Linked DNA regions of Homo sapiens: regions 2, 3 and 4 are each linked to region 1. The links come from fine-mapping of genetic effects on gene expression. A gene starts in region 1. Each other region holds a variant in brackets. All regions are shown on one strand. Distances are from middle to middle. Region 1 holds the start of FRMD4B (FERM domain containing 4B). Region 2 overlaps FRMD4B (FERM domain containing 4B). Region 3 overlaps FRMD4B (FERM domain containing 4B). Region 4 overlaps FRMD4B (FERM domain containing 4B).

Region 1 (8,252 bases):
AAGCTGCCATTTCACTAACTTGCTCTTTCTTCCTAGAGACAGGGGTTGGAATTTGTCCTATCTTCTTGGCATTCATGCTCTTCTTCCTGCCAGTTCCTCAAAGGAGAACCTACAGGAGCCTCAGGCATAATGACAATTTCTCTTTTACGACAGCACAACTCCCAGGTGTATGAGTAATGCTGCCACCCGAAGCATCTTCTTAAGCCTCCAGAGAGAGCTGCAGGAAATTACAGTGTATTGCAGGGAACTCTGTGCTGAGGAGGAAAGAAAATCCTCTTCTTAAATTAAAAAAAAAAAGAAAGAAAGAAAAAGCAAGACAATGTTGAAGCTAGCTTGATTTAGCTCCTTTTCCACAGAAAATTTTAGACTAGCTTCAAGGGTGTGTGTCTGGGATCTGGTTAGTCCCATGTGGCTAGTCCATTTTAAGGATGATGCCATACTTGGGTAGCACTTTTCTCCACTTCTGCACATCTGGGTTCAGTTGCCACCCACTGCAGTCCCTGGAGTGGAGGAAGTTGTATTTCCTTCCCTCTAAAATCACTCAGTCTTGACCTTCGAACTTCTTCTACAAAAGAGGAAAGCCATTTGGATAAGAAAAAAAGCATCAGTGTTTATGTCAGTAGAAATAAGATGTCTTCTGTCTTGCACCCAGCTTCTCTGAGTCCACGGGACAAGTTGCCTCTAGTGGGGAAGATCAAGCTCAAAAAGCTTTTTGGGAACTTGAAAGAGCAACAGAACTGCTCCCTGAAAACAAGTTGCCACAAACTTTCACCTTCAGCAAACAGAAAGTCATAGGAAAGCACATGTAGGTAACTAGTTGAAATTTAAAAACACATTTTATAATATGTACACAGGGACATAGAGAGTGGACTAAGAAGGCTTGGCACAGTGGCTCACGCCTGTAATCCCAGCACCTTGGGAGGCCGAGGGGGGAGGATCACGAGTTCAGGAGTTCGAGACCAGCTGGCCAACATGCTGAAACCCCATCTCTAGTAAAAATACAAAAATTAGCCTGGCGTGGTGTTGTGCACTTGTAATTCCAGCTACTCGGGAGGCTGAAGCAGGAGAATCACTTGAACCCGGGAGGCGGAGGTTGCAGTGAACTGAGATGGTGCCACTGCACTCCAGCCTGGGCGACAGAGGGAGACTACGTTTCAAAAAAAAAAAAAAAAAAAGTAGACTAAGAGACAATGGAGACTGGGGAGGGTCAGAGGGTGGGAGGGGATGAAGGATGAGAAATAACTTAATAGGTACAATGTACACTATTCTTGTGATGGCTACACTCAAAGCCCAGACTTCGCCACAATGCAATATATCCATATAACAACACTGCACTTATACTCACTAAATCTATCATTTTAAAAACCCACATTTTACTTATACTGTTTTATCTGACTACAAAAAACTGAAGCAATTCTTGATTCGGGGGGTTATGGTGATTAGTTTTCTTTGGATGCTTACCCTTCACCAGACACCGTGCTAAAGACCTTATACAGAATATTTTACTTAATTTTCCCCAAACTTTTTGTAGTGAATACTGATAATACATTGTACACATGAGGACATTGAGACTTTGTTGACTTAAGGAGCTTATATGGGGTCTCACGGGTCCTGAGGAGAGGAGATCTGAAGTTGGGTGGGTCTCTTTTAGAAGATTTAGCTCCTAATCACCATACTATCACTATTGTAGTTCTCTAATTTTAGCATGAGTCGGAATCCTCCAGAGGCCAACTGAAAGCTCTGATCGCTGATCTCACCCCCCAACAATTTCTGATTCCAGGGCTGCCTGAGAGCTTGCATCTCTAGCAAATTCCCAGGTGATGCTAAAGCTGCTGGCCCAGTGACCACACTTTGAGAGCCCCTATTATACTACATCCTATCTTCTAAAAAATTGCCCTGACTTTGGAAACCTTGAATGAAAATGATGGAATTTGAAAGTGACTGCTGACATTAGACCTACGCACAGATAGCTAACAGCCAGAGTGTTTCTAGAGCCTCTCTTCTGAGAGGATGGTGTCATGAGACAGAGGTAATTGACCTGTTGTAGGTTTTATTCTGGTATTCCCTTGGCTGCCTGACATTTCCGAGAACACAGTCGAACTGCATCGTTTAAAAAAAAAAAGTACCACCACCATTTGCTCGTACTAATAGGGCATTTTTGAAGTTCAGTAGTTTTCCATTCAGCATGATGACAGTTCTTTTTCAAGCTAAGTTCATTTTCTTTTGATTCAGTAAAATCTATTATATTCAGATTCATCGTTACCATCATCTTGAAAAAAAAACCATCAATACTAATACTGATGGCACATAGAGAAGACTTATTGTGAAGAAAGGTTTGCAAATCTTGGACCAAGTCTTGTGTCCTATTAACTAATTCAACAAAAACTCTTGGGCAATTTTATTAACGAAAGAAATCTCATTTAAAAGTTTTCTGATTACAGTCACTGAAAACAACAGGCACTTTGAGGACAGATTTTGTGTTCTTCGTCTTTTGACTGATTGAGTTTCACCTGAATTAAGATTATAAAAGCACATTTGATACCTGAAATCAAGCTGATTTACTTGTCGATAATCTGTTCTGGAGTCTTCTGGGCTAGTTCAGGAGAAAAGCTTTGGTGCCTTACCTTTCCTTTTGGTGCCACTTAATAGCATAGATAACAACCCAGATGTGAAACAGCCAAGAAAATACAGACAATTGACTTACAGATGGATTCAGGAAAAAACTCCATCCTGAAATTTGCTACAGCACTTTTGCTATGAGAAATCTTCATACATTCTAAGGGAAAATGGAGGCTGGGCACAATGGGTCATGTCTGTAACGCTAGCACTTTGGGAGGCTGAGGCTGGAAGATTGCTTGAGCCCAGGCATTTGAAACCAGCCTGGGCGACATAGTGAGACCCCATCTCTACAAAAAAAATAATGATAATAAACTTAGCACCTGTAGTCCCCGTGGCTGAGGTGGGAAGATGGATCACTTCATCCCAGGAGTTCAAGGCAGCTGTGAGCTATGATTGAGTCACTGCTCTCCAGCCTGGGCAACAGACCTTGTCTCAAAAATAAATAAAGGAAGACAGAGACTGGTGGTAGGCGAGACTCCTTGAGCTCCCTTTTCCAAATGTTTCCAACAATCAGCATCAATTCCCGAGGGAAAACTTTAATAAATAAATAAATAAGATTAATTATCTAGTGACTTCATGAGTGGTGGAACAGTTTCCTTTGGTTTTGAGGGGAGAATAAACTACCCATGCAGGTTGGTGCTTGCAGGTGAGGTTAGACATGTCCAGAGGCTGAATTTTCCAGAACTAAACCACCGATTCTCTTATGGGCTTCTGTTTCCCAGCACTAGTAACGGCAAGCTATTTACAAGGGACCAAGAACTCTGTTTTTCTCCCTGACTGCTGCATTGGTATTAGCAGCATCTTGGTGTGAGGAAACCTGCCTTCCTGCTGGCAACCACAGGAGGCTGTCATTTTCTCTGAGACCCTCAAGTTAGGAGCAAAGGCAGGTTCTAGGGCCGCCTGTTGCTTTGAGACTGTTGCCTTCATCTCCTGCTTCCAGCAGAACCAAGGAAACATTCGTGGCTATTCCCCCAGGAGTAGGGTCCAAAGGGATGCCTTGGAGATTTTTTTTTTTCTCTCTCTCTCTTCTGCATCTGTGGCTGCCCAGAGGTGTTTTATCAGTGTGAACAGAGCAAGATGAGTAAGGTGTTCCCCGAGGCAGATTAGGAGACCACTCGTCCGGTGTGGGGGGTGTGTGTCTGTGTGTGTGTGTGTTCGCGCGCGCGCAAGACGTGGAAGCCAAGTGTGCTGAAATGCAGCTCCCCTCTCTGCCTGCAAAGAGTTGCTCCGCTTCCGTCCCTGCCCCGCGCCCTGGGGAAGCGCCAGGGGGAGTCCTCGCCGGCCAGGGCTTCCCGTGCCCCGGGAGCATCGAGGGCCAGCTTGGTGGAGCTTAGCACAGCTTGCTCGGCGCTGCGAGCGGGCGGGGGTGGACACTGGGCTTCTGTGTGCCAGTCGCAGCCGTTGGCTGGCGGGCACCCAATCCCAGGGCATGCCGCCGGAGCCTGGCCAGGACGCACGGTGAAAGACGAGTTTGGTGGCAGGCTTGACCCCCCGGCTGCCAGCAGAAGCCGGCGTCGGGAGCCCAGGCGGGCAGGCCGCTGGGGTCGGGGCTGCACGTACGAGAGCCGGGACGCCCGGGTTCAGAGCGAAGGAGGAGGCATGGCTTCGGTGTTCATGTGTGGCGTGGAGGACCTGCTGTTCAGCGGCAGCCGCTTCGTATGGAACTTGACCGTGTCCACGCTGCGGAGATGGTACACGGAGAGGCTGCGGGCTTGCCACCAGGTGCTGCGGACGTGGTGCGGGCTGCAGGACGTGTACCAGGTGAGCTGGAGCGCGCGGCACCCGAGGGCCCCAGCAGGATGCCGGGCACTCGTGGGAAGCAGGCTCCACCTGTATGATTTTATTCCCCCCAGCTCTTCTTAAACTCCTAGCAGACTGCTTGGCCCTTGGGTCAAACGCTCAGCAGCTCTAGGTAATTATTGCTTGACAGAGCTTGTGAATTTTTCAAATCGGGCATGGGGGGCACTTGCGAGATAGTCCCAGCGTTTGCAGACATCTGTTACAGAGCAATGGTGTACTGGCGGGCGCTTGACTAGGGAGGCTGTTGCTTTGCAACAGAGGGTCTTCAGAAAGCCACTTAGACATTCAAATGAGTCCTTCTTTTTAATTTCATTGGGGGTGGGAGTGGCTGCTTCTGAAGCAACGGTTTCACACCAATTTGCTGGCAGAGGGGGCCTTGGTGGATTTTTATCCTTCCGTTGGATTTTCAGTTTTCCATCAGGCAGCCCCAACTTGTAAGGCAGAGCCAGGAAAAGCTGATTCTGTGTCTACTGGCTTTTGGAAGGAAGGACAGCAAATTGTGAACACTTTGCAGGAGGATGACAGGCTGGGGAAGGGAGGGGTGGCCCGGCTACACGTTGGAATGCTCATGTTAGGATTTACTCCCTGTCACACAACACAGCCCCTTTATTTCTCTGCTCGGTCCCATCCTGCAGGCAAAAAATGCAGCAACTTTGCTCAACTAGGAGACCATTCATCCTCTCTGGTACTGCAGTTTGCCTGGATTTCTTTTTTTTTTTTTAGACAGTAATTTATGAATTTAAAAGTTCTGTGCTTTGGTTGTTAATATATTTGAGATTTTTAAAAATCTGCATTGTTTAGAAATATACTTGGTGTCTACTGTGGAAAGATAATATCATATTTTCTTTCCTGTGATGTGGAATAGCTTTGTTGCAGTTCCTGGATTTCCCCCCATTTGACCCTGTTCCTAATATGTCTAGAATTTATGTCTTATTATATTGTGTCTCATACATGATCAAGCACTTGATTTTGACAAACCATAATCTTCCATCAATCAGGCAAAATGAAAAGGCCAGCACCTAAGGTTAGCCTGTGGAAGTCTAAAGAGTCAGCGTCCCCTTGTCACCCTTGTTAAAATATGAGGAACATTTGAACTTGTGCTTTCACTGCTTCTGCTTTGTATAACATATCTGTGATATCTTGCATTTTGAAATGGAATCTGAAAGGCAGGTTGGGAACCAGGGCAGCATGTGGGAGTTTGAGAGTATTAGGGAATTGTGGATATATCCCATCTGGCCACATTACATAGCTCTCTGGCTTTTTGGAGCCAGAAGTGTGTCTGTCTTTCAAGCCTTTTTTTTCCTCTCTTGGGAAATCCCTGTTCAGTTTGGTCTGTAGAATAAGTGCCCCTTATGTAATTTTGTTTTTCCTTTTTAGTGTTTGAGAAACTTTCAAAAAGGGAACGCAAATATTGTAGCCAACCAGAGTGACTCTGTGCCTCACTCCCCAAGGATTCAGAGGATTTATGGCTTATCTGTAATACTGTTACTGACCAATTCAAAAATAAAGATTCCAGAAACCTGAGACCTTATGGATTCTTTATAAGGTTGACTGATAATTTTTATGCAGAATAGCAATTTGAGACACTGAGCTACTAAAATATATGTATTTTTTTCTTTTCTCTAAAATGGATGGTGACTGAGCCAATACCATATCATAATTGATAAGAACATCTAAAATAATGGTGGTAGTCAGGCAGTGTGCTGTGTGTCTATAATCCCAGCTACTCAGAAGGCTGAGGCAGGAAGATCCCTTGAGCCCAGGAGTTTGAGGCCAGCCCGGGCAACATAGTGAGACCCATCTCTTAAAAAAATAAAAAATAAAAAAAAAATAAGTCCCCACTCCTTATTTTTAACTTTAATCAATTGTACATTTCAAAATAACTAGAAGAGAATAATTTGAATGTTTCTAGCACGAAGAAAAGATAACGGTTGGGCACCATGGCTCATGCCTGTAATCCCAACATTTTGGGAGGCTGAAGTGAGAGGATCACTTGAGCCCAGGAGTTCAAGACCAGTCTGAGCAACATAGTGAGACCCCATCTCTACAAAAAATTTAAAAATCAGCCAGGTATAGCGTCATGAACCTGTGGTTCTCTCTGCTCAAGACGTTGAGGCAGGAGGATCACTTGAGCCCAGGAGTTCAATGCTGCAGTGAGCCATAATTGTCCCACTGCACTTCAGCCTAAGTGACAGAGGGAGACCTCCTCTAAAAAATTAATTAATTAAAATATTTAAAGCATTGGCTATCCCAATAACCCTGCTTTGATTATATGAATGTGTCACATTATCACATGTACCCCCGAACTATGTACATCTAATATGTATCAATGAAAATAAATAACAAAGGCTTTTATGAATACAGAATCAGAAGAAAATGATCTCTAAGTTTAATATTTCCTGTGCTTTTGCAAAAATAAGATTTTCAAAAATATTTTCAGCCTTTGAATATTCTTAATTGTGCAACATAATCCTTTGCAAAGGAAGATCATTTTTTAATGCTTTTCAAATATTAAGTGAAAAAGTAGTGACTTAATTGTGTAGAACTAAAAGACAGTAACTGCAAGTTAAATAGACAAGGGAGTTAATCCAGTCTTTGCCTATGTATGACCGTGGGTAAGTTAATCTTACTATACTTCAGCTTCATCATTTATAAAATGAGAAATTAATAGTACTAATCACAGAGATTGATAAAAGAATTAATTGACGTGAGATATTTAGCACGCTGCCTGGAGTTTAGAAAGCATCCAATAAATGTTATCTTTTCCATGAGTTAGGATTTTTTTTATTATAATAGAAAACCCAATTCAAACTTGCCTACAGAGTAAAAAGAAATGACTTTTGTCACAGCTGAAAAGTCTAGCAGTAGAATGAACTTTAGGTATTGTTTGATCAGGGTACCATGCTTTCAGACCTGGTCTTGCTGATGTGTTGGCTTTATCTTCAGCTGGTTTCTTCCCTCACAATAGCAGATAATCACAGCAGTTTCAGGCCTTATATCCACACATCCAGAAAGAAAGAATTTCTCATATCCTCCAACTATCAAAAAAAAAAAAAAAAAAGTCCCAGTTTACATGCTGGAACTCCAATTTAGGGTCTGTACCCACTCCTGATGCCATGCACTGATTGGCACAGAGTATGGGATGACAATTTATGCATTCTCAATGAGAGTGAAATGGCCCAAAGGAGGCAAAAATTGTTTTGGAGGAGGGGGGTGGGAAAAAAATTCACTACTTTTATTTATAAAGCACGAATATACATGCAATATATAAACAGAAATACAGCATATCTGTGACATTAAAATGGGAGGGATTGGGCTGGGTGCAGTGGCTCACACCTCTAATCCCAGCACTTTGGGAGGCCAAGGTGAGCAGATCACTTGAGGTCAGGAGTTCAAGACCAGCGTGGCCAACATGGCAAGACCCCGTCTCTACTAAAAATACAAAAAGTAGCTGAGTGTGGTGATTCATGCCTGTAATCCCAGCACTTTGGGAGGCTGAGGCGAGTGGATCACTTGAGCTTACGAGTTCGAGACCAGCCTGGCCAACATGGCAAAACGCCATCTCTACTAAAAATACAAAAATTAGCCAGGCATGGTGGCACATGCCTGTAATCCTAGCTACTCGGGAGGCTGAGGCATGAGAATCACTTAAACCTGGGAGATGGAGTTTGCAGTAAGCCATGATCACACCACTGCACTCCAACCTGGGCAACAGAGTGAGACTCTGTCTCAAAATAAATAAATAAAATGAAATAAAATAGGAGGGGTGACAAACAAACAAAAATCTAAAAAGGCTCCTTAAGCAGATAACAATGAATTAAAAGGTTAAGAAA
Region 2 (8,252 bases), 34 kb after region 1:
GATATTATATATATATGTATATATATTATATATATGTATATATACGTGTGTGTATATATGTATGTGTGTGTGTATATATATATCTATATATAAAGGGGAGTTTATTAAGTATTAACTCACATGATAACAAGGTCCCACAATAGGCCGTCTGCAGGCTGAGGAGCAAGGAGAGCCAGTCCGAGTCCCCAAACTGAAGAACTTGGAGTCTGATATTCCAGGTCAGGAAGCATCCAGCACGAGAGAAAGATGTAGGCTGGGAGGCTAGGCCAGTCTTGTCTTTTCACATTTTTCTGCCTGCTTTATATTCTGGCCACAGCGGCAGCTGATCAGATGGTGCCCACCCACATCACGGGTGGGTCTGCCTTTCCCAGCCCACTGACTTAAATGTTAATCTCCTTTGGCAATACCCTCAGAGGCACACCCAGGATCAATACTTGGCATCCTTCAATCCAATCAAGTTGACACTAAGTATTAACCATCACATGGGGGTAGAGTGATTTTATTGGTCAGTCTTGAATCACATATTCATCTTCTTTATATGGGGATATGGGGTTCCCCCCTACCCCCAGTTATTTGGATGGTGTCCCCAAAGAAAAGCGGGGATCCTGTTTCCTAATTTTTTTTCTTTTTTGAGATGGAATCTTGCTTGCTCTGTCACCCAGGCTGGAGTGCAGTGGTGTGATCTCAGCTCACTGCAACCTCCGGCTCCCAGGTTGAAGCAATTCTCCTGCTTCAGCCTCCCGAGTAGCTGGGAATACAGGTGCCGGCCACCACACCTGGCTAATTTTTGTATTTGTAGTAGAGATGGGGTTACGCCATGTTGGCCAGGCTGGTCTCAAACCCCTTACCTCAGGTGATCTGCCAACCTCAGCCTCCCAAAGTGCTGAGATTACAGGTGTGAGACACTGTGCCCGGCCTCCTAATTTTAATACTCCTGGTAGACTCCATCTCTATGTGTTCTCACACCATAACCTGAGCTTACCCAGCCTCCCCCCTAATTTGGTCTGTCAACCTTCATCTGGCCCTCAAGCTGCCCTGGCCTCCTGGTTTTAGCCTTGCCTAATCTAGCCCAACTTGCTGCTGAAACTGGCTATCAACATTCCGATTGTCCTTCAACAGTGAAAACATTTTTACCATACAATCAGAAATGTCCCACTAGTTCTCTCAGTCGACTCTCCAACCCAGTAAGAAAAGGTACCATGTATTGAGTTTTTACTGTTATATATTAACAAATAGAAGGTTCTGTCAAATAAAGTAATACAATAATTCCCCACCTTCCAAACAAGAAGACTCAGGCAAATGTTTTGGGTCAACCTATATAAAATTTTAGAAATGTATATGAAATATTAGAAAATTTACTCCTAATATTAGGAGTGCTCATAACACTTGTTATGCAGATTAATAACTGGAGTGATTTCTGCCTTGTGCTCTCCCTCTTGATAGGATAATTTTATTCAGCTTCTTCATGTGCATGTGTGTGCTGGCACTGGAACAAAAGTCCTCTTTGAGTCATCCTTTTATCACAGCGCAGCATCTCCACTTCTGCCCAAGTTGTTTGAGCTATATAGCACTTTTTCAATCTCCATATATGATGCTTTTCTGGGAATATCATTGCCCAGCTTTTTTTTTTTTCCTTTTTCCATTTATCCTACAAGTATATGTGCATGAAATAATGTTTAAGTAACTTGTTTCTTCTAACATCCAACCCGTCCAATTGGGAGGTCACGTGCTCACAAATAATTACTAAATATGTATTAAACTTTTTGCCACCTTTTCTACTGATATCATCAAGTGACTTCTATTTGCATCCAAACTTAGCATTGACTGAAGTTGTTACAGGCTGCCATGTCTTCCCCAGACAGTATATTGTGGTCATAGTAATTAGAGTCTTTAGAAGGATCTGAAGATAAAGCCACTCCCCGGTTTCTGAGGGATTAACATTTTGTGGGGGTAAAGGGAGGTACCCCACCCTATATTTAGATACCTGTGGTATCTCCCAGGCAAATTCTTTGAGCTTTGCATGAACTATCTCTTTTAATTTCCCCAGCACTCCTGAAGGAGATCAGGATTTTTATCTCCATTTTACAAAGGAGGGAACCAATTCTCAGAAAGATCAAGTAACTTTCCCAAGGATATATACAACTGTAAAACACGAGGTTTCTCTGACTCTAGAGAGTCTTAGAGATTTAATCTTATGGTTATATTCTTAACCATACCATACTCCTGAGCAAAATTCCAGACTGTTCTTTTTTTCAGGAGGGAGAAGCATGATACCCTGTCACAAACTTTTACTTAGTCATTCTCTTTTTTTAAAAAAAGTAAATTTATTATTTTTCCAGTATTCTATATGTTTTTCTCTCTGCCTTCAAGCATAATGTATTTTGATTATTTCCTATTCACTGAATGACTTCAATAGTAATGATTTCATTAAATGCAAATAGTGAAATGAATCTTTTCTGAGACCACGTCATTCTGCCAAGATTTTCTGTTGTGGCTGGCATCTCTGATTGATTTTACTAAGGTTGTTCCATGGAATTCTAAGTTTCTTTCTGAGTGGAAAAGCTGTTAACATCAACTGGCTGTGAGTAGCAAAGTTGAGTTAAATATTGTTTTTATTTATATTCATTAAATTCCCAGCCTCATCCAGAACATGCATAGAAGTTTAGATTCATACATGGCATCGCCTATCTCTGAATAATTACCCAACCTAAAGCTTGCATTATCAAGGAAGTTTAGAAAACAGTAGATGACATTTCATCATATGTTTTAAATGTGTTGTAAAGAAAGCGTTTGAGTGGCCAAAAGAAA[T/A]AGCAGAAGTTTTTTAGTTGTTTTTATTTTCCCATTTCTCCCGTGACTCATATTGAAAGGCTTTTGTTTCTAATCAAAGAAACAAACAGTATGGTCATTTCCTTGAGATTATATGGCAGCGGAAGGCGTCGGGAGTTTTTAAGTTCCTACTTCCACTGGCTTGTAGTTGGAGAAAATGCAAGCACATGCGCGCACACACACGCGCGCGCACACACACACACACCGCACAAGTGCTTAATACGTGTGTCTTTTGTCTTAAGCACTCTCTTCAGTTCCTTTAAATGAGCCGAGGTCATGGTGGTTCGGAGGTAAGAATGATTTTTTTTTATGATCTTCCAGTTGCAGACTGTGTAACGGTGCTTCTTCAGCTTTGACTGGCATTTCATAGCAAAATCTTGGGCAGATTTTAATATTGTACTGGGGGTGGACTAATCTAAGAACTAATATTGCAGAACCCAACTTGCAGAAAAGGAAATTACAAGAAATGTTTATCTTCACTCTTGTGAAGGAATTACTTTTTCCAAAACGGAGTTGGATGTGCTCTGTTTGATACCAAGTGAAGATGGTCCTTAAAGACGCCCATCGTCTGGAGGGTTTTCCTGTCATTGTTTTAATGCTATCTTTGCTCCTTTAAAGGTCGTGAAAGGCTGATTTCTTATTTTGCTTTAGAACTTTGGCAAATATGAAGTATGTAATTCCACTTCATCACCCTTTCCCCTGCTCCCACCACTCTCCTTTTTTCTTCTTCTTTTTTTTTTTAAATTTTAAATACTGGAGTTTCTTTATGGATGTAGAAAAGACAGAGAGAGGGCAGGAACTGTGTCAGTAAGCAACACAGAAATGCTTTTTGATTTATAATTGTTCATCGTTTCATCAGCAAGATGTGTTTGGGGCCTTCCCTGTTTTTGTGAACACTTGGCAACAAAAATTCCGTGGTGTCCTAGAGCTCATTAGCAGCCCATCTGAAAGGATCCTTTGATGTGGGTCCCTGCTTTGCCTCCAGAAAGAAGAAGGAAAATTGAATTTTGTCCTCCAGTCTAGTTTGTGGTGAGGATTCTATGTGATCAGAATTCAGCAGTTCAAGATAGAAACCTCGGAAATGCCATTTTTGGGGACGGCTTCCAATTAATTAATAAAACTTTTATGATTTGTCAGAGGAAGTCCTACATCCTTATTAAAGGGAAGGTTTTTTTTCTTTGCTGCCTTGTAATGTGGTTATGGCAAACTCATTAAGTCCAACTCCATGTGGCCATTTTTCTTCCTTGATGGGTAGATGTTGATGGTGGAGGGGAGGAATATCTGGGTAAAAAACAAAGGAAATTATCTCATCCAGTAGACTGCAAAACTCCTGGGGATAGAAGGAAGTCTGTAGAGGAAGTGGGCAGGATTGGGTAGAGAAGAGAAACATCAAAGAAATTAAATATATCACAATAGGAACTGGAATAGTACCCTTTTGCTATAATGTAACAACATAATAGTGTAGCCTTAGAAATGAGTCCATTGTCTCTAAATCGGTCCTATCTAAAGGTATCTAATGTCCGAAGGAGTGAAAAGGAATATAATCTTATCCAAATGCAGTCCTGTGACCTGGATTCTCAGAGTGACATTATGGTGACCTAAGGCCTCATTATAAATGATCCTGTTCTGAAGATTCAGGCCATAGAACATCCTGAGAAGTAAGACTATCTTGTTATGCAGCTCTTTCAGGGGTCAGAAACTACAGCTCTTAGCAGAGGGCCTAATATATTCCCAGATATACCAAGTCCCACTCCAGAGCATACTCTGTGTGTTCCACTGTGTTTGATCCTACATTTGAAGTATGCAGGGAAGTTGTTACTACTAGAATGGAGGTTGCTGCAGACAGGTACTATGTCTCACCCATGGAGAGAATTCCCAGTAACTATCAGGAGGCAGGGTGATGGGTGGTGGACAAATATTATTGGCTGAGCAGAATTGTTAGATATATTTATGCCATGGAACATTTAAACCAGAAGAAACCTTGTAAGTCACTTTGTCCAATCTCCTCATTCTGTTACTGAAGAGATTAAAATCCAGAGAAGAGGAGGAATTTTTCTAAGACTTCCTATCCCGTTAGGGGCAGGGCACAGCCTGGATTCTGGATCTCCTGAGTTCCGAATCTATGCTCTGTCCACCCTTTGCCTTTTCTGGGCCAGAGGATGATTTTGCCTAATTTCCAGCATCTCTGAATTTCATGAAGCAAGAGTTTCTTTACATGGGTGCGTGCATCTTGGAATAGAAAAGTGGGAGCTGCATCCAAATGAGATTCTGCTTTCTGTTCTGCATGGTTTCCAATTGCTAGCAGAAGCCTGTGCACAGGTGTGCAAAAGACCCCAGGAAAAGAACTACATGTCTTGTCTCTTATCACAAAAAGCTATAGTGCTAGGTAAAACCATACTAAAACACTTTCTCTTTGTTTCAAAAATATTTTGGCAACCTGAAAATACTAGTGAGCTCTCAGCAGAGGCCTGTCTCGGGATCATAATTCAAGTATGAGACTTACGTTTGTCCCTGAGGTAGATTCTGTGAAGCTCCAATTAAGACTTTTTTCTTGCTTAATGTTGGAAAACTAGAAAAAATTTTAAATGCAATATTTTCCTAAACTGGAAAAGTAAGCCTGAGTACAGGTAAACTATACATTAATATATGTTTATGTGATTTGGCAAGGTTAAACAATCAATTTATTATTCCAATAACAGCAATCTAAGAAAGGAAGGTATTGGGCTTGCTGTATACTTCAGTTGCTTTTTTTTTCCTTAAAGGAAGCTTTTGTAGATCAGGCTGTAAAGGTATGCACACTTCTGTTGTCTTGTATTGGTTTATTTTCTCATTTGGTTTTCTTTTTTTATTATTATTATACTTTAAGTTCTAGAGTACATGTGCACAATGTGCAGGTTTGTTACATATGTATACATGTGCCATGTTGCTGTGCTGCACCCATTAACTCATCATTTACATTAGGTATATCTCCTAATGCTATCCCTCCCCCCTCCCCCCTCCCCACACCCCAAGGCAGGCCCCAGCGTGTGCTGTTCCCCTTCCTGTGTCCAAGTGTTCTCATTGTTCAATTCCCACCTGTGAGTGAGAACATGCAGTGTTTGGTTATTTGTCCTTGCGATAGTTTGCTGAGAATGATAGTTTCCAGCACCATCCATGTCCCTACAAAGGACATGAACTCATTCTTCTTTATGGCTGCACAGTATTCCATGGTGTATATGTGCCACATTTTCTTAATCCAGTCTATCACTGTTGGACATTTGGATTGGTTCCAAGTCTTTGCTATTGTGAATAGTGTCACAGTAAACATACATGTTCATGTGTCTTTAAAGCAGCATGATTTATAATCCTTTGGGTATATACGCAGTAATGGGATGGCTGGGTCAAATGGTATTTCTACTGCTAGATCCCTGAGGAATCGCCACACTGTCTTCCACAATGGTTGAACTAGTTTACAGTCCCACCAACAGTGTCAAAGTGTTCCTATTTCTCCACATCCTCTCCAGCACCTGTTGTTTCCTGACTTTTTAATGATCGCCATTCTAACTGGTGTGAGATGGTATCTCATTGTGATTTTGATTTGCATTTCTCTGATGGCCAGTGATGATGAGCATTTTTTCATGTGTCTATTGGTTGCATAAATGTCTTCTTTTGAGAAGCGTCTGTTCATATCCTTTGCCCACTTTTTCATGGGGTTGTTTGTTTTTTTCTTGTAAATTTGTTGGAGTTCATTGTAGATTCTGGATATTAGCCCTTTGTCAGATGAGTAGGTTGTGAAAATTTTCTCCCATTCTATAGGTTGCCTGTTCACTCTGATGATAGTTTTTTTGCTGTGCAGAAGCTCTTTAGTTTAATTAGACCCCATTTGTCAATTTTGGCTTTTGTTGCCATTGCTTTTGGTGTTTTAGACATGAAGTCCTTGCCCATGCCTATGTCCTGAATGGTATTGCCTAGGTTTTCTTCTAGGGTTTTTATGGTTTTAGGTCTAACATTTAGGTCTTTAATCCACCTTGAATTAATTTTTGTGTAAGGTGTAAGGAAGGGATCCAATTTCAGCTTTCTACATATGGTTAGCCAGTTTTCCCAGCACCATTTATTAAATAGGGAATCCTTTCCCCATTGCTTGTTTTTCTCAGGTTTGTCAAAGATCAGATGGTTGTAGATGTGTGATATTATTTCTGAGGGCTCTGTTCTGTTCCATTGGTCTATATCTCTGTTTTGGTACCAGTACCATGCTTTTTTGGTTACTGTAGCCTTGTAGTATAGTTTGAAGTCAGGTAGCTTGATGCCTCCAGTTTCGTTCTTTTGGCTTAGGATTGACTTGGCAATGCGGGCTCTTTTTTGGTTCTATATGAACTTTAAAGTATTTTTTTCCAATTCTGTGAAGAAAGTCATTGGTAGCTTGATGGGAATGGCTTTGAATCTATAAATTACCTTGGGCAGTATGGCCATTTTCACGATATTGATTCTTCCTATCCATGAGCATGGAATGTTCTTCCATTTGTTTGTGTCCTCTTTTATTTCATTGAGCAGTGGTTTGTAGTTCTCCTTGAAGAGGTCTTTCACATCCCTTGTAAGTTGGATTCCTAGGTATTTTATTCCCTTTGAAGCAATTGTGAATGGGAGTTCACTCATGATTTGGCTCTCTGTTTGTCTGTTATTGGTGTATAAAAATGCTTGTGATTTTAGCACATTGATTTTGTATCCTGAGACTTTGCTGAAGTTGCTTATCAGCTTAAGGAGATTTTAGGCTGAGACAATGAGGTTTTCTAAATATACAATCATGTCATATGCAAACAGGGACAATTTGACTTCCTCTTTTCCTAAATGAATACCTTTATTTCTTTCTCCTGCCTGATTGCCCTGGCCAGAACTTCCAACACTATGTTGAATAGGAGTGGTGAGAGAGGGCATCCCAGTTGTCAAGGGGAATGCTTCCAGTTTTTGCCCATTCAGTATGATATTGACTGTGGGTTTGTCCTAAATAGCTCTTATTATTTTGAGATACATCCCATCAATACCTAATTTATTGAGAGTTTTTAGCATAAAGGGCTGTTGAATTTTGTCAAAGGCGTTTTCTGCATCTATTGAGATAAGCATGTGGTTTTTGTCTTTGGTTCTGTTTATATGCTGGATTACATTTATTGATTTGCATATGTTGTACCAGCCTTGCATCCCGGGGATGAAGCCCACTTGATCATGGTGGATAAGATCTTTGATGTGCTGCTGGATTCAGTTTGCCAGTGTTTTACTGAGGATCTTTGCATCGATGTTCATCAGGGATATTGGTCTAAAATTCTCTTTTTTTGTTGTGTCTCTGCCAGCCTTTGGTATCAGGATGTTGCTGGCCTCATAAAATGAGTTAGGGAGGATTCCCTCTTTTTCTATTGATTGGAATAGTTTCAGAAGGAATGGTACCAGTTCCTCCT
Region 3 (8,252 bases), 25 kb after region 1:
TTGTTTTTATTTTACTTCATTTATTAGTAGAGATGTCCAATTTCCATAACTTTCTTAAGGACCATGATACTTGGAATACTGGAGTTGTTCTTGCCCGATAACATTGGGGGAAACACATACTGTGTTTTGTCACAGTATAAATTGGTTTGAGAACAATTTTAGAGCCAGACTTGAGAGCAGGTTTTAGTCTCCTAGAGAATATTTGTCATCTCAGAGTGATATGGAATTTCCTTGTATAGTTAAAATAGGTTTATATAGAGCATTGCTGGTTAAAACCCAAGTGCCATAAAGATAGATGTTCACACAGCCTCTCTGTTATGCACTAAAATCTTAAGCTTTAGAAATGGCTGAGAATAGTTATTGCTTTTTATAATCACTATACTATTCGGTTTCATATTGTGGTTTCCTCCTTTACTGTTTAGTGAATTTCAGCAATTTTGTTTTATCTCTTCTGTAAATGGCCTAAACTTCATTTAGATGAACTGAGAAGGAATCACCAAGGCCTTTATTTATTTTTTTAAAAAAACAAGTGAGAAAGCTTGGGGTAGGAGAACAGAATGCTGCACCATTTATTTTTTCTTTTTTGTCTTAGATGCCCAGGGGTTTTTGAGCTTCTTTGGCCATCTAAATTCATATTTATTAACTTAAATATAATTTAACCAGAGTCGAATTGTCTCGATGAGATTTCATAGCCACGAGCGACCATGAAACTGTCATTTGTCTCATTTGGGGAGGCACCAGAACTGATTACTCAGGAGATGATTGAAACTGCTGATCCCATTAATGCCATGGTTATTCTGGAGATAGTGCCCTGAGGGTGAAGATGGGTTGACCCACAGATTTGTTTGTATATAGACTTTAACCAGAGCCAGGCTGACTCAGAGGCAAACTGGAATTGCTGCAGGAAGTTTCCCAATGAATGTTTTTGTCATATTTTTTAGCTGCTCACTCACCACTGGCATACCATTAGCACCCAGTCTCCCTTCTGGAGGTGCCCACCAGGCAGATGGCAAAATGGCAGGTCCCAGCGCATGCTTCCTGCCGTGGCCACCAAGGGGCCAGCTTGTCCTCTGTCTGTCCCCTGGTTCAGCTTGGCTAAACTTGCATGTTCCTGTCTTCTGAGTTTGAGCTAAAAGGACAGGATGTTTGGAAGTCAGAATCATCAAGGCAGTAACTGAGGTGAGTGGGACAGGCAAGATAGTCGCGTGACATAACTTGTTACTTTGCTCCCTGTGGGTTCTCTTGTTTTGTGTTCATTTTCTAAGCCTGATTTAAACATCCATTCTTTGCTTCTTTCATCCTGAGAGGCCTGATTTGGTTCAGGGATCAATATCACCCCCTTGCCCATATAACTTGGGTAAATACTGATTGATTGGTCTCTAACCCAGTGCTTCCCTACTTTCTCTGATGTCATAGAATACACAGAAAATGATAGTGTTTGTGTGGCACCTGGAGTAAATGGAAGAAGCTGCTCAGGCTGGAGGTGATCACCAAATTGTCTCTGGCTGCCTCCAGTCCTGAAAAGACCAATAGCTCAGTACACCTGTTGCCTCAGTACACTGGTTTTGAAGCTGTGGTTGAAGCTAGTCATGATGACCTTATTCCTCTGCCAGGGATTGGTTAAGGGTAAACATAGGACCCAGCTCTGGTCAATGGGGAGCCATTTCTTAAAAAGCTGTCTGTTCTTGAAAATAGGCATGGCTGGGCCAGGTGCAGTGGCTCACGCCTGTAATCCTAGCACTTTGGGAGGCCAAGGCAGGCGGATCACGAGGTCAGGAGATTGAGACCATCCTGGCTAACATGGTGAAATTCCGTCTCTACTAAAAATACAAAAAATTAGCCAGGCGTGGTGGCAGGCGCCTGTAGTCCCAGCTACTCGGGAGGCTGAGGCAGGAGAATGGCGTGAACCCAGGAGGCGGAGCTTGCAGTGAGCTGAGATTGTGCCACTGCACCCCAGCCTGGGCAACAGAGCAAGACTCCGTCTCAAAAAAAAAAAAAAAGGCATGGAGGCCAGGTGCAGAGGCTCATACCTATGATCCCAACACTTTGGGAGGTCAAGATGGGAGGATCACTTGAGCTCAGGAGTTCAAGACCAGCCCGGGCAACATGGCAAGACCCATCTCTATTTAAAAAAAAAAAAAAAACATGGTAAAAAGAAGTGATCCTTTTTTTTGGAGTGGAGATGTGAGAGCTTCAAGGATGGCAGCTATATTGCAACCATGAGGGAATGTTACGTAAGAAGAATGGGCCGGGTGGAAAAATAGAAGAAGCCTGGGACTTTTACGATATTGCTAATCTGTTGACCTCACCAACCTTGGCACTGCCCTACCTGGAGATACTGAGAATATAGATCCATATTATTAAAGTTATTTTCACTTTTTGTTTGTTTTTTTTTTTTTTACTGTAAAAAGCATTCTGATACAATATAAGCTCAGGACTTGAAGGTCAGGACTTATAGAAGAATTGTCCAACAACAACAACAAAAGTATTCAAAATGAAAAACTTTTTAGGAAACATATAATAAAAATTGGAGATGTGCTGATATAAGGAAAATGTTTAAGTTCAGAATAAGATGGGCAGGAATAGAAAGAAATTGTTTAAAATTCACAGTTCTTTATTTTAAAAAGTATGGGATTTTTAAATTAACATGATAGTTTGTTTTTGTTTTTTGTTTGTTTTTTTGGGGGGGGGGTTGGCTTTTTGTTGTTGTTGTTTTGAGATGGAGTCTCACTCTGTCACCCAGGCTGGAGTGCAGTGGCACGATCCCGGCTCACTGCAACCTCCGCCTTCCAGTTTCAAGCGATTCTCCTGCCTCAGCTTCCTGAGTAGCTGGAATTACAGGCATGCGCCACCGTGCCCAGCTAATTTTGTACTTTTAGTAGAGATGGGGTGTTACCATGTTGGTCAGGCTGGTCTCGAGCTCCTGACTTCGTGATAGTTGTCTTAACCAGAAATATTTACCAGTGTCTCAGTGAAATGCTAGAGAACTGGAAAGGATTCCAATTAACAATTGTGAGAGGCAGAAGAGCACACAAGTCAAGAGCCTGAAATTTGGAGCCAAACTGTGTAGGTTCAAAGCCTTCATCTGCTACTTCCTGGCTGTGATTTCATGTAAGTTATTTAACCTCTCTATGCCTCAGTGTTCTCATCTGTAAAATGGAGATAATAATAATAGTCCCGACCTCAAAGTTATTGTGGAGTTTATATTTATAATAAACAGGAACAGAGTATGGCACATATGAAGTACTATATAAGTGCTTGTTATTATTAATCTACAATTATCACCTAAACCTATACCTGTGCAAACAAAAAGTCACTTAAACACAAATGCTTCTACTACTTCACAGTCACTAAAATAACTAAAATTAAGAAGACCTATAATACCACATTTTGGCAAAGATGTGGGATAACCAGATCTCTCATATATTGGCAGTGTAAAATGGTATGACCTTTTAGGAAATTATTTGGCAGTTAAACGTACATTCATCCTATGATCTGTTAGCTCTATTCATGCACATTTATTCAAGAGAAATGAAAACATATGCATGTGCACACACATGCATACACACACAGCTTGTAAAAGAATATTCATAGCTTATAACTTCTAATACCCCCAAACTGAGAACAACTGATTTCCATTAACAAGAGAGGAGATAAATAAACTATACTATATTCATGCAATGGATACTACTCAGCGATCAGAAAATGAATGAATTGCTAATACATGCAACACCATGAATGAATATCAAAAACATTTTGCTCAGTAAAAGAAGCCAGGTATTAAAAAATACATACTCCATAATTCAATTTGTATGAAGTTCTACAACAGGAAAAACTAATCTATTGTGATAGAAATCTGAATAGTGGTTGTTATGGGAGGTAGGGAAAGATTGGCAGAGGTAGCTTTCTGGAAAAGTTTTATATCTTGGGGGGGATGTGGATAACATGGCTGTAATACCTAAAATATGTATTTTTATTATGCATCATTTATAGTGTAATTTTCTAAATGAAACAAAAAGCAGTAACAGACACTGCCCAGGTTTTGAGTAGTAAATGCACAAGATGAGCATCTTTTTATCCCAGGTAGCAAGGAAGCTGACAAATACTACTGGTAGCAAGGAAGCTGACAAATACTACTAAAACCATGTCACAAGGACTTGGAAACTGGCTTGAAGAGGCTCTCACTCACCAAAATGGCCCAATCTGAATATCAGTAAAGAAAATTTTAAAAAAAGAAAATAACTTTAATGGATTGAAACACATAAATTATATTTAAATGCATATGTTCATAATGACAAAATGCACTTTGACCACCCTTGAAAGTACCCAACTCGTTATTTTGGAAACTGGCAAATAAAGATAAAGAGTCAAACATTTTCTCTGCCTTTCTTGTATGAATTATACTACTGGGTAACCAATTAATAGATAAGGAAAAAAATCTCTCATTATAGAAATATTCTCACTAGTAAGTAAGGGATAATAGAATTAGAATGCCATCATACTGCCACTTCTAATTAATTAAATGATATAGCTGTTGAGCATTAGCAGCTGCTAATGTCACAAAAAGAAATGGCTCTTCTAATGAAAAAACACAAGTGGCGACCTATGAGATAGTATTGCCAAAAAAGATCTAACTGAAATCTGATAAAGCCTTGGGACTCAACCAACCTACAGGAACCATGGTAAACAGAGGAACATTTAAGTGACACCAAGGGAATGCAATCAGCAAAACTTAGGTGCTAGGAGAATTTACAGGATAAACAGCCTAGTTTCTTCAACAAATGAATTGCAATGAGAGAGAGAGGAGAGAAAAAGAGAGAGATGGATGGAACAGGAACCTGTAGGTTAACAGAGACCTAAGGAAAATATCAACCAGTTGCAAAATGTGGAGCTTTTTTTTATTTTGATTCAAACAAACTTGGGGAAAAAAGACATTAATCAGATAATTGGATATTTGAAGACTAGAGATCTGATGATATTAAGGAATTACTGTTAACTTTTTTAAGTATTTAGGGTTATGTTTAAAAAAGAGTCCTTATCTTTTATATTGAATTATTTACAGATGAAATTACTTAAGTCTTGGTTTTGCTTCAAAATAATACATATAGGAGGACAGAAAGTAGGCAAGAATATAAATGAAACAATATTAGCCAGGTGTTGATAACTTGAAACTAGGTGGAAAAATGGGAGGTGGTTATGACACTGGTCTTTGACTTTTTGTGTGTACTTGAAATTTTCCACTACAAAAACTTTTTTGTTTTGGTTTTAAAGGAATACAAAGGGAGAGAGAAAGGGGAAAACAAAACTCCAGGTTCTGCAGAAAGACAGGAAGGAAATCTAACAGAATGCCTGAGTGTTAACCCCTGGATGCATTCCACCTTGTCTACAATGGCCAAATGGAAAGGCCATTTGTAAGAGCATGGGCCCTGGGTTCAAATCCTGTTCTTCTACCCCCAACTGGGGAGACTTATGCTACCAGACATCTCCGTGCTTCAGTTTCCCATTTGTAAAATGGATTTCAAGAATGAACTTTGAATACCCTTTTCTCTTCATTTTTCCAAACACAGAGATGAGACTCAATTTTACAAAGTTTATGTGCGTCACCTAAAAAACTGCACGTGCCTTATGGTAAAACCAAGTCAAAAGTCATGGCCTTCAACCTGTGAAACAGACAGAAAGGAAACCCCTATCATGCCTGCTTCTCTCCCTACCTCTTTTCATCTCTGTTTTTCCATTTATGGTTAAGAAAACAAGAAAATTCGCCGAGCACAAAAGTTTTCCCTCTTTTTCTGTCTAGAGGGGAATATGAGTAATGAACTTTTCCATC[A/G]GGGTTGTTTTTCCTGGACATAGTGCACCCCCTCCAGCTGCTAAAACATGTGATCCTGAAGGAGACCTTAAATAAACTTAAATGTTCCTTATCGGTCAGTCCCAGTTTGTACTAAATTATGAATTAATTTTCTGTATTTGGTACTTTTCCTTTTTAAACAGAAGTTCTATTCATTCAAAATATTAGTTGAGAACTTTCCAGGTTCCACGTGTTATAGCCCTGAACAAGGCAGAAATGGTCCTGAAACCAACTAACCTGTGGCTGGCTCTTTCCTGACCTCCAGTCTTAATCCAGGAGCTCACTCTCCCCATACAGCGTTCTCCACCCCTCTTTATCATGTCCTCCTGCTTTATTTTCCTCCTAAGTCTTACTCTTGTCTGAAATTACCTCATTTATGAATTAAATTATTTTTTGTTTCATGCCACCCTCTGGATACCTCTCCTGCTCACTGCTGTTCCCCCACCACTTAGCACCATGCCCAGCAGAGCTAGCTACATAATTTACCAGACTCTACATATCTTTTCTGTGTCTATAGCCAAATACCACAGACTGGGTAATTTATAAAGAAAACAGATTTATTTGGCTCATGGTTCTGGAGGCTGGGAAGTCCAACAACATGGCACTGGCATCTGGCAGGGTCATCCCATGGCTGAAGGCAGAAGGGTGCACAGGTTCACAGGAAGAAACAGGAAAAATGTGGGCTGAACTTATCTTTTATTAGAAGCCCACCTCCATGATAACTCATCTACTTCTGTGACAATGAATTAATAATCCATTATCATGTCTTGAAGGTCCCACTTCTTTTTTTGTTTGTTTATTTGTTTGTTTTTGAGGCAGGGTCTCACTGTGTCACCCAGGCTGAAGTGTAGTGGCAGAGTCTTGGCTCACTGCAGCCTCAACCTCCCAGGCTCAAGTGATTCTCCTACCTCAGCCTCCTGAGTATCTGGGACTATAGGCGCATGCCACCACACTTGGCTAATTTTTGTGTATTTTGTAGAGATGGAGTTTCACTATATTGCCCAGGCTGGTCTCAAACTCCTGAACTCAAGCAATCTGTTTTTTTTGGCTTCCCAAACTGCTGGGATTACAGGCATGTGCCCCCCGGATCTGGCCAGTCCCACCTCTTAATACTGTGAAAATGGCAATCAAATTTTAACATGAGTTTTAGTGGGGACATTCAAACCATAGCACAATGCAAAATGAAAATGTGGGATTCCTTGTTCAAAAATGATTAAGAATTGTGAGACAGCAGAACACTAAACCAAGCATGAGGCCCTTCTGAGCACTGAATCCTGTGGGCCTACATAGGCCACACACCCAGCTCTGACATCCAATACCTGATAGACATTCAAAAAATAATTACTGCAGTGAATGCAAATTTAAGAAAAATCATCAGGTATCCAAGGAGCTCTGACATACAGATTGATAAAAGATTAAAAACAGAAACCAGCATGTGTGTGAAAGAAATGTGTAATTCCTCAATTGCAGAGTTGACTATGAGGTGACAAATAAAGTGATTACTCTTCTCTTTTTGAGAGATGCCAGGTCCAGGCTGCAAATTTTTCGAAGGTCAGAACCATGGTGTTTTCATATTTGACTTCCTTGTAAGGCCTCTGCATGTATTTGATGCTCAAGAAATATTTGAACTGAAACTGAATTGTTTCTAGAGGCTGAATTAGAGAAGGATGAGAAGTTATGAGGAAATATTTTTTCTTTAGTGCAAACCTCACTAAATTTAGGAGGAGATGAGCTGGTCTTCAAGTTTGTCCTCTTACTTTATGACAAATGGTTTAGTGCTATGCCCAGCTGTCAGAATTTTGGAAAACTGCAATACATTGCCTCTGTTGTGATTTTATGGTGCGTCTGGCATTCATTCAGTATGTGAAATGTTCTGTGATGAAAGTGATAGTTTTGAGATAAAACGCAAAGCTTCTCCTAAAGACAAAAATTGGGATCCTGCTTCCACAAATTTTTCCTTAAATTGGTGGACATATTTCCTTTATTCCACCCTCACAGTCAATAAAACCCTCCACAAAGTCACCAATACATATGTACAAGCTCACCAGTTAGGTGATCATCCAACTGTGTCACAATTTGTATTTTATAGGCACAGTTTCACATATAAGCTCATATTTCATTTGGACCTATTCCAGGATATAGTTTCATTTTCAACGGGACTCCTAAACAGGGCTCCCCAAGTCTACATTCCTGAATCCCAGGTTAAGCCCTGCCTTGTATCTGGCTGCACGGCAGAAGGCATTTGGAAGAACATTTGTTTCAAGTTGGATATAGCATCAGCTTTGCCACTGTCCCATTCTGGCCTTTGAATGCCAGTTATCTGGGACCCCTTCTGATTTACTGATTACAAAACTCCTATCTGATACCCTACTACTGCAGGAATTATCCATTTCCTCACGACTGAATC
Region 4 (6,625 bases), 140 kb after region 1:
TTTTGAATGATAAAAAAAAAAAAAAAAAAGGAAAACTGATAAATTAGAGTTCCTCGAACTTCAATATAAATCAACAGAATTTTAGTCTTCAAAGCATTTGCTGTAACTGATTTTTAAGGCCTCACATTTTATCTGTAATAGTACAAATATGAACTCAACAATGTGTCATTGACACAGAAGTGAATTTATATTTTTAATAATATTTACATTGTGTGTATACTGAAATAACCATGCTGTAACACAGGGGAAAAAAATTATCCCAGGAAAACACTCAACAAATGAATCTAGGAAATTCTGCAGAGTGCTTAAAAATGAACTTGCAGAGATAAAAATTTTTCATTTAGAAGTTTTCTGAATGTTTAGCCTCAAAGTCATTCCCGTTTCTTCCTGAATACTGCTCTCTACACATAATCCGTCACCACAGCTATTTAAAATAGACACACACACACACACACACACACACACGCACACACAGTGGTTTCGCCTTAACCCTCAATGAGTCTCTCCACACCCCCCACTTTCCCCTGCAATGGTATGATCTGCATTTGATCGTAAACTGGAGGTGCCAAGCTGTGACAGCTTCCTCAACTTCAGAGCCATTTGCTACAATCTAGGACAGCCCCATGTTCAATGATGCTTTCCTTTTCCATCAACAGGGGCAAATCGAAGTAGAGAGCGAAACCATCTTCAAGTTAGCAGCGTTTATTTTACAGGTAAGATTGGACAAACTGCCTCTTAGCAGCTCCCTTGTGTTTGTTCGTTTTTGTTAACTGCCTGCAACTCTGAAACTTTTGCATGGGCCAGTGTTTGTTGGATTTTTAAGCCAGTTAGTTGTTTGCCGATGAAAAATGTGCGCCACCGTCTTCTGCTTTAGAATAGTTTGCATGAGCTACAATGTGATATTGTGAGTCTCAAAGAAAAATGAAATTTAGACTGCTCTGAAGGAGAAGAATTAAACCCATATTCCTGGAAGAGAGCTCTGGGATACTTGAATTTGGGAGGCAGCAGTTGTTACAACAGCTGTAATTTTCATTTAAATTTAGTAACTTTTGTATACATTTTCTTGTGGTCCAGTAAAAGAGCCCTTTAGTTCTTAAAGGCATTAGTCTGTTTCCATGCTGGTTTAAAAAGTAAAGGGAAAACAAATAGTATGTGTTGGTTTACCTGTATTGTGGTTTAAAAGGTCTTCCTCCAGTCTAAAAAGTGTGCCACTTGAATGAAAAGCATTTATCATGTGATCTTAAAAACGTACAGTGAGAAATAATTATCTGTGCTTTTTCACATACATATGTTTCTTTTGTTAAGAATAAGGAATATTCCTAACAGGACAGTCAGGGTTTTCTTATCAATGCCTAATTCTTCTTATGCCTATAGGGAGAGCATTCCTGAGAAACACTCTTCAAAACAAAACTCAGGAACTTTAAGAGGGGAAAGTAATCAAGATAAAACTCATTTAGCTTAACAAAGATACATATTGATCAACTCTGTTTTTGTTTGTTGTTTTTAGGAAGCCAAGGGAGATTATACCAGGTAATGCTTTTCTTTTCTGATATTACTATGCAAAATAACCCTAAAGAATCATTTTATGTGGTTATTTTAAATAACAATGGATACAAAATCAAAGGAAAGTAGATCTGTAAGGCAGGAGACTGAGATCTCTTCGCTCTTCAAATAGAGACCTATTCTTTTTGTGAATGAATCAGGGAATGATGCTTTCTTACAGTTTTTGAAGCCAGAATGACAGCGATGGAACCAGAAGCTCTCCAAAGTTCTGTTTTCTGTCATCTGTTAATTAGTGAGATGAAGAAATCTATAAAAAGCTTTGATAGCTTATGCTGATAAAAAAAAACCTTACAATAATCTTGTGTTCGAAGAGTTATAATGTATGCACAAAAAGATTAAATCCATCAGCTGCTTAGTTAAGGGATTAATAGGGGCTTTCTTTCACAGCTGCCCCGAAGGGGCCTCACCCTTC[A/G]TACACTTGACCTAACAGTTGTATTGTTGCTGCGGAGACACTTAATGGTTCTAACTGCCTCACTGGCCACATCCACAGAGGGTGTTTATATTTGAATTCACCCTCTACCTGCTCCATTCTGTCCTTTTAATGCAATCGTTGGAGTTGTAGAGAAACAGTTAAAGGGTGGAGGCAATGCTTCCCTTTGTAGGCCAATGACCCCTTTGAAAGCCTGGCCTCTACGATGTTAATGTTCGACTCCTGGTAGACGTTACTCGTAGATTATTTACAGATCACCTAGCACTCATTCCCAGCCAAGTCTTTGAATAATGTGCCCCTTAACGGACTAACAAAATAATGCCTTCCAACCTTGAAAACTTCCAGTTACGGAGTTGTACTTCAGTTCGGAAACTCCCAACACTCTCCTCATCTTCCCATTCGGCTTTGGTAGAATGTTCAAGGATGCCACTTAAAACACCATGATTCCTCACCACAATCTCCCACCAGTTCTGTTTTGTGCTCTCTCTATATATATATATTTGTGTGTGTGTGTGTGTATTTACATTTTTCTAGGTTAAGAAATTTGAAGAAATCATGAAAATCAAACACCAGTTGTTTTTAATGGAAAGAAAGGGGCAGGAGTTTAAAAAAAAAAACAAGAGTATAAGGTAGTTTACAGACCATTAGTATCATTAAAGGCTCACGCCTGAGGCCGGGCATGGTGGCTCACGCCTGTAATCCCAGCACTTTGGGAGGCCGAGGAGGGAGGATCACTTGAGGCCAGGAGTTCCAGACCAGCGTGGCCAACATGGTGAAACCCTGTCTCTACTACAAATATAAAAATTAGCTGGGTGGCCGGGCACGGTGGCTCACGCCTGTAATCCCAGCACTTTGAGAGGCTGAGGCGGGCAGATCACAAGGTCAGGAGATCGAGACCATCTTGACTAACACGGTGAAACCCTGTCTCTATTAAAAATACAAAAAAATTAGCTGGGTGCGGTGGCGGGTGCCTGTAGTCCCAGCTACTTGGGAAGCTGTGGCAGGAGAATGGCGTGAACCCGGGAGGTGGAGCTTGCAGTGAGCCGAGATAGTGCCACTGCAGTCCGGCCTGGGCAAAAGAGCGAGACTCCGTCTCAAAAAAAAGAAAATTAGCTGGGCATGGTGGCAGGCACCTGTAATCCCAGCTACTCAGGAGGCTAAGGCAGGAGAATTGCTTGAACCTGGGAGGCGAAGGTTGCAGTGAGCCAAGATCGCGCCACTGCACTCCAGCCTGGGTGACGGAGTGAGACTCAGAAAAAAGCTGCTGTGTCTCTACTGTTGTCTTCTCCAGAAAAGCCACGTTTCCTGGGAATATCAGATATGCAAGGAACACAGTCATTTATGGGGGTGATTTTTAAAAAACAACCCTGGATAAGAAATCATACGGGAGGTGATTCTAAAGTCAATTTGTAAATGAGGGTTTCAGGGCCCAAAAGCTCACACTCAATGGATTGCTAACCCACCTTCCCCACTTAGCCCCAGTCAAGGCTGTGACTGACACCCTCTGAGCCTCAGTTTCCTCATCGGTAAAATGGTACCTTTCCCATAAAACTGTCATGAGAATCAAATGTATGTAAACGTTGCCCAGGGCAACATCTGGCTTATAGCAAGTAATCTACACCCTTGGGCTATTATTATTAATTTAGTTATTATTATCCTCATTATTACTATCATCCTATCTGGTCTCTTATCTACCTCTGATGAGACTTTTGAGACTAAGGTTGGTCTGAAGAAGCTGTAATAACCTATAGTTATGGGGGAGGTGGAGAATAGAAAAAGAAAGGGTAATTTCACAAACCTTCCTTAGGGAAGATCCCTTGCCTGAGGCAAAGGAAGGCCTAAAAGGGACAGTCCTTCAGTTGTTCAAACATTTGAGCCCTAGGACATCAAGGTTGGCGAGTTAATTCTGGGCAAGCCCAGTCCAGACCTTTGCCTTCACTCGAGCTTGTTCCTGGTGGTTTTCCTGAGTGATCACGAGGTTGAAGTGGCGCACACTGTTTTGAAATTGTCCAAACTACACTAAGTAGTGGAGAGAGCGTGGGACTGGAAATCACGCAGACTGGCAACATCCCTCTGAGTGGCCACTTATCCTGTCTGAGCCTCGGTTCCCTCATCTGTAAATTGGGGTTAATCAAAACAATGGCTTTGCAGGTTGGTTTTCAGGACATGTGGGAGCATTTTGCAAATTACCATGCTCTCCCTATCTGATCTTCTCCCCTGAATAGAGAGGATATGTTTTTCCTCCAAAGTTTTGTTCTAAAACTCCTCTTTGTTTTTCTTTTGTTTTATTTTGTTTTTGTTTATTTTTGAGATAGAGCATTGTTCTCTCACCCAGGCTGGTGTGCAGTGGCATGATCTTAGTTCACTATAACCTCCACCTCCTGGCTCAATCAGTTCTTTCATCTCAGCCTCCTGAGTGGCTGGGACTACAGGTACACACCATCACACCTGGCTAATTTTTGTATTTTTTGTAGAAACAGGGATTCACCATGTTACCCAGGCTGGTCTCAAATTCCTGGGCCCAGCTGATCTGCCTATGTTGGCCTCCCAAAGCGCCGAGATTACAGGTGCAAGCCATCGCACCCTGCCTTGTTACAAAACTCTTCTGAGAAAATCAGGCGCCGGGTGCCGAGCACAGTGGCTCACGCCTATAATCCCAGCACTTTGGGAGGCCGAGGCAGGTGGATCACCTGAGGTCGGGAATTCGAGACCAGCCTGGCCAACATGGAGAAACCCTGTTTCTACTAAAAATACAAAATTAGCTGGGCATGGTGGCACATGCCTGTAATCCCAGCTACTTGGGAGGCTGAGGAAGGAGAATCTCTTGAACCCAGGAGGCAGAGGTTGTGGTGAGCCGAGATCACACCATTGCACTCCAGCCTGGGCAACAAGAGTGAAACTGTCTCAAAAAAAAAAAAAAAAAAAAAACAAATTAGCCTGGCACGTTCGCAGACGCCTGTAGTCCCAGCTACTTGGAAGGCTGAAGCGAGATAATTGCTTGAACCCAGGAGGTGGAGGTTGCAGTGAGCCAAGGTGGTGCCACTGCACTCCATCCTGGATGACAGAGTGGGACTCTGTCACAAAAAAAAAAAAAAAAAGAAAAGAAAATCAGCCAAGGCCAGGTGCAATGGCTCACTTCTGTAATCCCAGCATTTTAGGAGGCCGAGATAGGCGGATCACTCGAGGCCAGGAGTTTGAGACTAGCCTGGCCAACATGGCAAAACCTTGTCTCTACTAAAAATACAAAAGTTATCTGTGCATGGCAGCACACATCTGTAATAACAGCTCCTGAGGAGGCTGAGACACAAGAATCGCTTGAACCTGGAGGTGGAGGTGGAGGTTTGCACTGAGCTAGAGATCGTTCCACTGCACTCCAGCCTGGGCAACAGAGCAAGACTCTGTCTAAAAACACACACACACACACACACACACACACACACACACAAAGAAAGTCAGGCAAAATAAAATACCATGAGGCAATGTTGTAGTGGTTAGAGCAAAGACTGTGGAACCAGACAGCCTGATTCAAATGCCAGCTTGGCTACTTATTACCTGTGTAATCTTGAACAAATTACTTAAAATCTCCAAGCCTCAGTTTCCTCATCTGTAAAATGGGACTTACAATTATAATACACACTCCATAGGATTGCTGTGAGGATTAAATGAATTAATATTGCATTTGTAAAGTATTTAAAACAGTTCCTGTAATCCATCTTATTTTACCAAATTGATGGACATGATGGACTCCCCTATTGTTACAAATATTACTTGTTTCCCATATAAATAATGGGAAAAAAGATGTTCATCATGGCCTTATTTATATTAGCTTTTTTTCCCCATAAAGCTAATATAAATAATGCTGTGATGAACATCTGTGTGTATTTATTTTTAGTCTTGCTCTGTTATCCAGACTGGAGTGCAGCTCATTGCAACCTCCACCTCCTGGGTTCAAGCAGTTCTCCTGCCTCAGCCTCCCAAGTAACTGGGATTACAGGCACATACAACCATGCCCGGCTAATTTTTGTATTTTTAGTAGAGACAAGTTTTCACCATGTTGTCCAGGCTGGTCTCAGACTCTTGACCTCAGTGATCCGCCCACGTCAGCCTCCCAAAATGCTGGGATTTTTGTTTAAACAGAGTCTCGCTCTGTCGCCCAGGCTGAAGTGCAATGGTGCCATCTTGGCTCACTGCAACCTCCACCTCCTGGGTTCAAGAGATTCTCCTGCTTCAACCTCCCAAGCAGCTGGGACTACAGGCATTGAGACTGTGTCTCAAAAAACATGATAAACAAACAAACATTGACCAAAATATGTCCCCAAATACCTTCCTAGGCAAAGTGGCTTTTTCAGTAAAAACAATGACTGACCACCTAATTCTTAAGGCTGCTCTGGTCCACTCCTTGTGAATATCCACCTCTTTCTTGAATTCAGCATTTCCGAAGCTGACCTCACCAACAGCCCAGCCTCCAAACCAGCTCCTCTTCCATTGTCTCCCTTTGAATTACAGCTCCATTCTCTCTTGCATGCTGTCTGAGGATTTCCCCTTTCCTTTCCCATCTTTTTCCCACCTGTCAGACAGATTTCCTTCTGCTGATCAGCACCGCAACTTTCTCAGCCCTCATTCCTTCCCACT

What was found. PIP is the estimated chance that this variant, and not a neighbour inherited with it, causes the effect.
Region 2: its variant is fine-mapped to the expression of FRMD4B in whole blood (TOPMed, PIP above 0.99).
Region 3: its variant is fine-mapped to the expression of FRMD4B in aorta (GTEx, PIP 0.93).
Region 4: its variant is fine-mapped to the expression of FRMD4B in naive CD4 T cells (Schmiedel 2018, PIP 0.91).

Annotation. Positions count from the first base shown.
Region 1 is chr3:69,381,956-69,390,207 of GRCh38, reverse strand. It overlaps FRMD4B (FERM domain containing 4B), which reads left to right and starts at 4,120. Exons shown (of 23, transcript NM_015123.3): 1 at 4,120-4,380. The coding sequence starts at 4,219. RefSeq lists an enhancer at 4,043-4,653.
Region 2 is chr3:69,348,408-69,356,659 of GRCh38, reverse strand. All of the region lies in intron 1 of FRMD4B (FERM domain containing 4B), which reads left to right. Among named protein-coding and RNA genes, the nearest start is that of FRMD4B, 34 kb to the left of the region's middle. The variant T/A (reference allele first, on the strand shown) is at 2,809.
Region 3 is chr3:69,357,141-69,365,392 of GRCh38, reverse strand. The region is part of intron 1 of FRMD4B (FERM domain containing 4B); the gene reads left to right. Among named protein-coding and RNA genes, the nearest start is that of FRMD4B, 25 kb to the left of the region's middle. The variant A/G (reference allele first, on the strand shown) is at 5,828.
Region 4 is chr3:69,244,131-69,250,755 of GRCh38, reverse strand. FRMD4B (FERM domain containing 4B) reads left to right here. Exons shown (of 23, transcript NM_015123.3): 6 at 657-713; 7 at 1,508-1,530. Among named protein-coding and RNA genes, the nearest start is that of LMOD3, 120 kb to the right of the region's middle. RefSeq lists an enhancer at 1,277-1,801. The variant A/G (reference allele first, on the strand shown) is at 1,976.